Regions from separate parts of the Homo sapiens genome. Here region 1 is linked to region 2. Evidence: fine-mapped expression QTL. A gene starts in region 2. The other region holds a variant in brackets. All regions are shown on one strand. Distances are from middle to middle. Region 1 overlaps LAMA2 (laminin subunit alpha 2). Region 2 holds the start of LAMA2 (laminin subunit alpha 2).

Region 1 (4,000 bases), 480 kb before region 2:
TGATTTAGGCCAGACACTGGGGGGTACATGAGACTCTTTTCCCTTAATAGAAATCTGTATATTATAGTTCTTGAGTTTGAAAAACACTGGTTAAGAAAGTCTCTGAATTTCCCTAACAGTTGTGTCCCTTGATTTGGGGCTGTGGGAAGAACATTTACCAATTACAGCCAATACCGCTTGTGAAGCTTCTGTCACCTTGTCCCTGGCCCTTGCTTGTGACTGCACCAACCTACCTTTAGCTCCTGAGTCATATTTTCAAGACCATACAGCATTTTATATGGCGCAGGCAGCGGACCAGTGAGGTTGATGCTCATGACCATCTGCTCCAGGCGAGCCAAGTCACCGAGAAGAAGGCCAGTGCACTCATCTCCACAAACTGTGAAAGAGAAGTGACAAAGAGTAGTTACTTCTGCTAAACATCCCAGGCAGATGTTCAAAGAATTCAGCTATGAAATATTTTATGGTCCAAGAATAATTCCATGGAAGATGAAACTACTCATCTCAGAATATTAATGCTATCAAATGGATGATGGTTGAGGAAAGATAAGAACAACAACAAAAGAACAGATATGCATGTCGCCCAGAACCTGAAATAGAGGCGATAATATAAACTGAGGGACCAAAGAGGAGGAGCAAATAGATTTGGGGAGAAAAAGTGTATTGCACAAGTATTGAAGATTTCCTTTAAGGCATAGAATATAACATTAAAAGTACCCCCTAAATCCCTACATGAGCAATCGAAAGGAACCTGTCCACAGGGAATAAAACATGCTCCAGAGTCTAAATGTGTGGTGCTCCATTAGATTGCACTGGAGAAAGTCATAGTAATTTGACCTCCACATGCTTTATGTATTACACATTCAAAAAGTATATAAATTTTTAGCTTGGTATCTATTGAGTAGAATAATTAAAAAAAAAAAAAGTCTAAAGAAGGCCGGGTGTGGTGGCTCATGCCTGTAATCCCAACACTTTGAGAGGCCGAGGTGGGTGGATCACCTGAGGTCAGGAGTTCAAGACCAGCCTGACCAACATGGTGAAACCCTGTCTCTACTAAAAATACAAAAATTAGCCAGGCGTGGTGGCGGGCCCCTGTAGTCTCAGCTACCCAGAAGGCTGAGGCAGGAGAATCACTTGAAACTGGGAGGCGGAGGTTGCAGTGAGCCAAGATTGCACCACTGCACTCCAGCCTGGGCGACAGACTGAGACTCCACCCCCCAAAAAATAAAATAAAAAGTCAAAATAAAAATAACTTTTCTTTCTATAGTGTTTTCTTATGATAATATTTATTGACTTATTTATTTGCCAACTGTTCCTCTTTATCCCTTCAGTCTATTACCACCCATGATTAGATGCAGTCTCACAAATCCCTACTTTGATGATTAACCTCTTTCAGTCTTATAGATAAATAATTGCTAAAGGCTAGAAAAACTATATTCTTTAAGTAGCCAAGAATGCTAATATTCTACCAGATATGGTTTGGATCTGTGTCCCCATCCAAATCTCATATTGAAATGTCATCCCCAATACTGGATATGGGGCCTCGTGGGAGGTATTGAATCACTGGAGTGGTTTTAATGGCTTAGCACCAC[C/T]GCCCTAGTGATGTTCTCATGACAGAGTTCTCATAAGACCTGGTTATTTAAAAGTGTGTGCCACCTCCAGCCCCCACTTCCTCCTGCTCTGCCTGTGTGAAGATGCCTGCTCCAGCTTTGCCTTCTGCCATGAGTGAAAGTTCCCTGAGGCCACCCCAGCCATGCTTCCTGTACAGCCTGATGGAACCATGAGCCAATTATACCTCTTTTCTTTACAAATTGCCGAGCTTCAGGCATTTCTTTATAGCAATACGAAAATGGACTAATACACTCACCATAATATTTTTGGCCATCAAAGAGGTGCTATTCAAATTTGGTGGTAGGGGCCAGGATAGGTGGTAGAATTGGTAGAGAGACAAATGGATTGTTGACTCTTCATTATGGAATAGATCTCATAAATAGTCGTATAATTTCCAAAATTAACATATATTGAATCTTTTAGCAGATTTAAAAAACATGTATATTTTTAGTTTTGCATTGCAGAGTAATGAGGTGTATCTGCACGCCAAGGAGCAGGAACTACTGCATTTATAATATACTCTCATGTATACAGTTACAATTTCTTACATTCTGCAGATAGAGGTATCAATGCTATATACATGTTAGAATAGGGGAAAATACATAGCATGGAAAATACCGAGAATTGGAGCAGCTCTGGATCATGCCCAAACTTGGCAAGAATTCAATTAGGTCTCTAAACAGCAGTCCCCTGAGCTGCTTAATGGAGAGAAAACCATTAACTGGTGCTTGTAAACAAAGAGAAGGAGGACGGAGAGTGATTTTTTGATAGGACAGCAGCTAGAGGTGAGTTACAATATCACTTCACAGGGATTAAACTGCCCTGGCAGGGCTTTTAATAAATCAGCTTCTTGCAGGTGACACCTGCAGCTTCTTGCAGGTGACAACTGTAGAGCGTCACCTGCAGGGGCTTTGCAAGCTCCTGATGCTTCACAAGCTGAATGAACAAAGAGGCTTTGGAGGCCAGAGCAGAAGTCTGGAACTAGGGCTATATCTCTTACTCTTCTCCTAGCCAGAATGAAACCAAATTTGCACTGCATGGAAACCAAGTAAAAGATTATTTTGGCTTCATAGCCCCGTTCAATGCAAACTTCAACAGACTTGTCCACATTAAACAATTAGAGAAAACACAACATAGAACTCAGTTAAGTGCCAAATTGACTGTGTCTAAACACCAAGATCCACAGTCTGGTTCTCAAGCTTTAGTGGGCCTCAGAACCACCAGTAGGACTTTCGGAAATCCTAGAGGGCTGGTCCACACCCCCTAGTATTTCTGAATCAGGAGGTGATTTGATCACCTGGTTTCTCTTAGTCTCTGACTGAGAATGTGCTTTTCTAACAAGCTCCCAGGTGATATTGCTACTGTTGGTCTGTGCACCACACTTTGAGTAGCAATCAGACCAACAGTTTTGGCACCACCTGGAAGCTTATTAGAAATGTATAATCGGGCTCTACCCCAGATCTAGGAAATCAGAATCTGCGTCCCACATTATCTCTGCACATTAGAATGTGACAACATTGGTGTGGATCAGTGGTTCTCACCTTTGGCTGCCCATTGGAATCACATGAACATTTATAAAATACAGATGCCTGGGCTCTTTCCCTCCTCACCACCACAGAATATGATTTTTGATGGGTCTGTGGTAAGGTCTAACCATCAGTATTTCTATTTTTATTTTTTTCTGAGACAGGGTCTTGCTCTGCCACCCATGCTGGAGTACAGTGGTGTGATCATGACTCACTGCGGCCTCAAACTCCTGGGCTAAAGTGATCCTCCTGCCTCAGCCTCCCGAGTGGTTGAGACTACAGGCACATGCCACCACATCCAGCTAGTTTTTTAACATAGAGATGGGGTCTTGCTGTGTTGCCCTGGCTGATGTCAGACTCCTGGCCTCAAGTGATCCTCCCACCTCAGCTTCCCCAAGTGCTGGGATCATAGGCGTGAACCACTGTATTTTAAAAATATTCCAGTAATTGAAAAACCATGTAGCCAAAGGATAAAACCACTGGACCAGGTGATAAATTATAGGGATGCTCAATCTTCAAGGGAGCAAGGATTTGGAAGAGGTCCTTTTGCTTGCTGTCTTCTCTACCTAGAATTCTTCTCCCTTGGTCTTCTCCCACCTGGTTCCTAGGTGTTCAGGTCAAGTGCTCAAGTGTCACTTTTTCAGAGAGCAAGTCCCTGATGATTCTAAAATTACTGTTACCTGAAACTCCCCACCACCCCCAGCCCTATACCCTGCGCCAGTCACTACTGCATTTCCTTTGCTTTCTTAACACTTATGCCTGTTTGGGCTACATTATTACTTAATTTATTTATATATTCTTTCTTCCTCGTTAAAGAAGGGACCTTAAACACCTTGGTTATGGTGCCTAGGAAAGGGTCTTGTACA
Region 2 (4,429 bases):
GTGAATAAAGATCGTGTACATAAGGCATTTTTAAATCATAAATCACTATCCAATTTTAAAGTTTCATGAATTTTACATACTTTCAACATTAACAGGTTTAAGTCATTTATCCTTGAGCCAACCTCCAGATATATTGTAAATGGTCTATGACAAAGACAATAATATATACTAGAATGCAGATTATAGCAGCCTATAGTAGATTGTATGTTGTAGCTATTTTGAATAAAATTCCTTATTGTATGTAGCATTTAAGTGGTATCTTGACAGAATGGTAGTATAAACCCTTCCTCCTGAATTCACTTCATCTTGTGCCTGGGTCATAGAAATCAGAGTTAATATTACCTTATTTGAAAAGAGAGTAAATAAGAAGGGAGAGGAAAAAAGAGAAATCCTGTGTGTGTTCAGGATAATTCTTAGCAACAATTTACTTGATCCTTACTCTGCATGCTTTGAGTTTCTGCCCCATTCCAAGTGGACATAAGGATTGGTGCCCCTGGCCCCTCATTTCTCCCAGCTGCCTAACATTATTAAAGTATTATGTCTTGTTTAAACACACCTTGTAATTGAGCAAAGTTTAATAGTTAAAAGTAGAATTTTTAAAAATAAGTGGCCAGAGATACTCTTAAAATCACTCTCGTAAATTATATTAATTAAGTCATATTGGCCCCATTTTACCTCTCAGAGAAGCAAAAGCAAAAATAGAAGGAAAAAAGTTATATAGTGAATGCAAGGTCATTTTTATTCCAAGAATTTTAATCAGGGAGTTATTATTATAGAAAGAGCTTGGGATATCTCTTTACTCCTTAAAAAATAGTACTGCTAAAAATGCTAGATTATAAGAACAAATATCAGAACTATTGACTTGGCTAGAAGTTAACTGGAAGAAGGATAAGTATACTTCAAAACTTAAGCAGATTCAGCCTCATTAAAACTTTTAAAAGCTTCTAACCTACAGATTTTGTACTCTTAGGTTAAACATTTTCATATTTAAAACCGAATAATAAATATTTCTTTTTTTTTTACTTTGATACAGGTTTTCCAACTTAAAGAATTGTTTGCTGAAATAATGTGTTACAAAGTATGTCTTACAATGCTGCACATGTGCTTCCTGTAAAATTCATGATAATAAAATAACTCTTCAAAGACTCCCCAAAGTTTCAGAAATGAGAGCTATATATACATAAACACTAAGAGGCTCTGAGGAGAATAAGTTATTTAAGTTACATTAAATACAGCCATCTTCCAAAGTCCTCCAAAGTGTATATCTAGTCACTGTGGCCTTAAAGTACACATGACATAGAAGTCTCCTCTGTATTTAAGCAAAAGGAGAAATTTCACGATTTCACTACAATAAAATAGGATATGAAGATAAGATGTGGGTTTGAAAAAGGTGAGGCTGGAGGCGCCATTGCCATGAAAGAAAAAAAACCACATAACTTCTTTAGAAATCCTGTTTTAAAAGTTGAAAACAAAGTTCTGTAAAACTTTATATATATATATATGTGTGTGTGTGTGTGTGTGTGTGTGTGTGTGTGTATATATATATATATAATTTTTTTTTGATGCATCAGCTACCCTCCATAAAGTCCCAGGATGAACCACACAGCTTGGGAAGCCTTTCTCTGCAGGATGGGCTCTGATTTGAAGAAATTCTTTTTTTTCCAATTGGAAAAAGTTTTCCTCTTGGAAAGATTTCAGAAATCAATTTACGGGATGTATCGTGATAGCAAGACCTCTTCGAAACTAAAGAACAATGAAAAGCACTCCCCGTTCCTTTTGCAGGACTTAGGTAATTCCCCCTACACTACGCTCTCATGGCATTGAACTTGAACTTGCTTCAAGTTCCTCTTGCCCCAGAGCGCACTCTCTGAAGGCGAAGCAAGACGGCAGTCCACAGACAGCAACTCTCGGAAGAGTGGAAGAAGTGAGGAATCTCGGTCCCGGCAAAGGATGCAACCCAAGCCCATGCCTCGACTGTACCTCTTTGCTGATGTGCCTGTGACTGCCGCTGCTGCTGCGGCCGCTGCGCCTGTACGCCCCCGAGGCCTCCGGAGAGCAGCAGAAGGAGGAGGACCCCGGCGGCTCCCGGCATCGTAGTGGCCGCGACCGGATCCACTTCTCGGGAGCCAGAGGAGTCGCTGCCGCCCTGTCCCCTGGCCTTGGCTTGTGAGCTGAGCGAGCAGCAGCTGCTGGGGAAGAGGAGGAGACAGCCCCCTCTGGCTTTGGCCGGGCCGCCGCCTGAGGGTGGGGGAGAAAGAGGACACTCCTCCACTCTCGCCTTCCATGGGCACGCGGCCCCAGGACGGCCCTCTATTAAAGGATCCTCCTTTCCTAGAGCGCTCCTTCCCTCTGAGACCGGATCATTCCTAGCTTGACCTGGTATCTGAACTTCTTTTAAATTAAAGAAAGTAATTGACATGAAAGCACTTTGAAATCTGTAAAATCCCTACACATGGAAAACATTATTTCTGGGAAATGCAAACAGCTAGGAACTTTTACCTCTTGAGAAAGGCCTGGCAAAACTGTGTGCAGCCACTGTGTACCTAGAAGATCCAAGACATCCCCAAGGCCAGAGTGTCTGAGAAGTTACTAGCCGAGGGAAGGTGCCCTCTGGGGACACTGCAGGCTGGGGAACTTACTGCTAGGTAGGCTGCTGGGAGGGCAGTAAAGGAAGTGCAAAATAAAACAGCCACCCTGGCGTCCCTGAAATGTTCCTGACCAAACTAATGGTTAGAATGAAGGCTTTCAGTTCAGTTAGGAGACATTTACTTAAAGGTAATAAAGGCCTTTGCAATAGTTTCCTTCCAGACTCACAATTTCATCTCTTCCAGTCCTGGTTTCTCCTCTTTCTCCTCTTTAACTCAACAGAACTACTGCCATTCCTAGTTTTTGTTGTTTTTTCATTTGTTTTTTATGGCCTAGGTCAGTGGTTCTCATAAGGTTTAAAACAACTCCATAATGGATTTTGTGAGTCGCAGGATGTCTTTTGGTTTACTCCGGGAACGGTGGGTACTGCAGGCATTAGTGTACTGTTGGGTCAGGGTGTGAGCTGTCCCTCAGTGGTCAGGACAGTCCTACAACATATTTTGTCCTTAGACTTCTGAATGGGCCACTGGTCATTTATGTAGTGAGTAAACAAACAAACAAAACAACAAAACCTTGCCTTATATTTGAAACCTAATTTAAGTTTGTTTCCACATCAAATTTTTGTGTGTGTTTTTTGTTTGTTTGTTTGTTTTTTTCTAGGATGCATCTACTATATACATTGAGAAGATAATTTACTTTGTGTTTTTGGATTTTACACCCATTTGTCAATGGGTGTAAAGATGTACTTTCAGAGAAGCACATCACTGATAACAACCTTGCCCATGGTACTTGAGTCACCAGCACAATATCAACATCCCATCGATTACACTGGGGTCATCTAAGAATAGGTGCAAACTTTTATTTTATTTTGCCTCCTAAGGAAGTTTTACCCAAGCATTTATATGTTGAAATACATATTGTCTTATATAGATAGTTTTCTTTTTTATAGTTAAGATGTATTGATTTATCTAAATATTATATTAAAGTTGAATTTTCTTTCAGTAAAATTAAGAGAGTATTGCTTTGAAGAGAATTGATTGAAAATCACTAGCCAAAGCCCATTCTTTAATATTATTCATGTCTTTTAGTTCTGTTAATATTATACCAGAAAGCTTTGTAATCCTTTTACCTTACTGTGGAAATTTGCAAAATGTAGTCTGCCCATGTCTGCACACTTATACATTATTTATTATTATAATAAACAATAATAAAACTTATATTTGAGAGTTTATTATAATTGAAGCCCCAGTGTTTTTAATTTGGTCTAATTTTGCCTAGAAGTGTTTTTCAGGTACATCTAATAGCAGAGAGGCACCCTAAATTAACCTTCTAAACCTATTGCTATTCTCAGAATGATTATTTTTACTCAACCACGTTGTGGCCTCAACTCAAATTAGTTAATCTAATAAATAATAAAAAATATTTATAAAAAGGAAAAGTTTTATTGAATATTTATAAAAAGGAAAATGATTATTTTTACTCAACCATGTTGTGGCCTCAACTCAAATTAGTTAATCTAATAAATAATAAAAAATATTTATAAAAAGGAAAATCAGAATGATGCAGCTGCTAACTCTAATTGTGGAATGAAAATATACCATGTTCCCTCTATCCCCTTCCTCTTTACATTTTCCCAGGATTTTATAATCAATATTTGTACCTGCTTTTCTGCAGTTACTGCAGTTACCTGAGTTCCTATTTTACATGAAAATGCCTTGAGAATAAGACTATGATCTCCACTGTCAACTCTACTTGTTTGATTCAGCACATGGAAAAAATTCTTAAATATTTAACCCAAATTAAAATGAACCAGTATATTTAGAGCTATATTTTTTCCAAATAA

What was found. PIP is the estimated chance that this variant, and not a neighbour inherited with it, causes the effect.
Region 1: its variant is fine-mapped to the expression of LAMA2 in blood mononuclear cells (TOPMed, PIP 0.98). The same link has a PIP of 0.9 or more in NK cells.

Annotation. Positions count from the first base shown.
Region 1 is chr6:129,362,595-129,366,594 of GRCh38, reverse strand. LAMA2 (laminin subunit alpha 2) reads right to left here. Exons shown (of 65, transcript NM_000426.4): 33 at 234-376. Among named protein-coding and RNA genes, the nearest start is that of ARHGAP18, 350 kb to the left of the region's middle. The variant C/T (reference allele first, on the strand shown) is at 1,590.
Region 2 is chr6:128,880,909-128,885,337 of GRCh38, reverse strand. It overlaps LAMA2 (laminin subunit alpha 2), which reads right to left and starts at 2,200. Exons shown (of 65, transcript NM_000426.4): 1 at 1,981-2,200. The coding sequence starts at 2,092.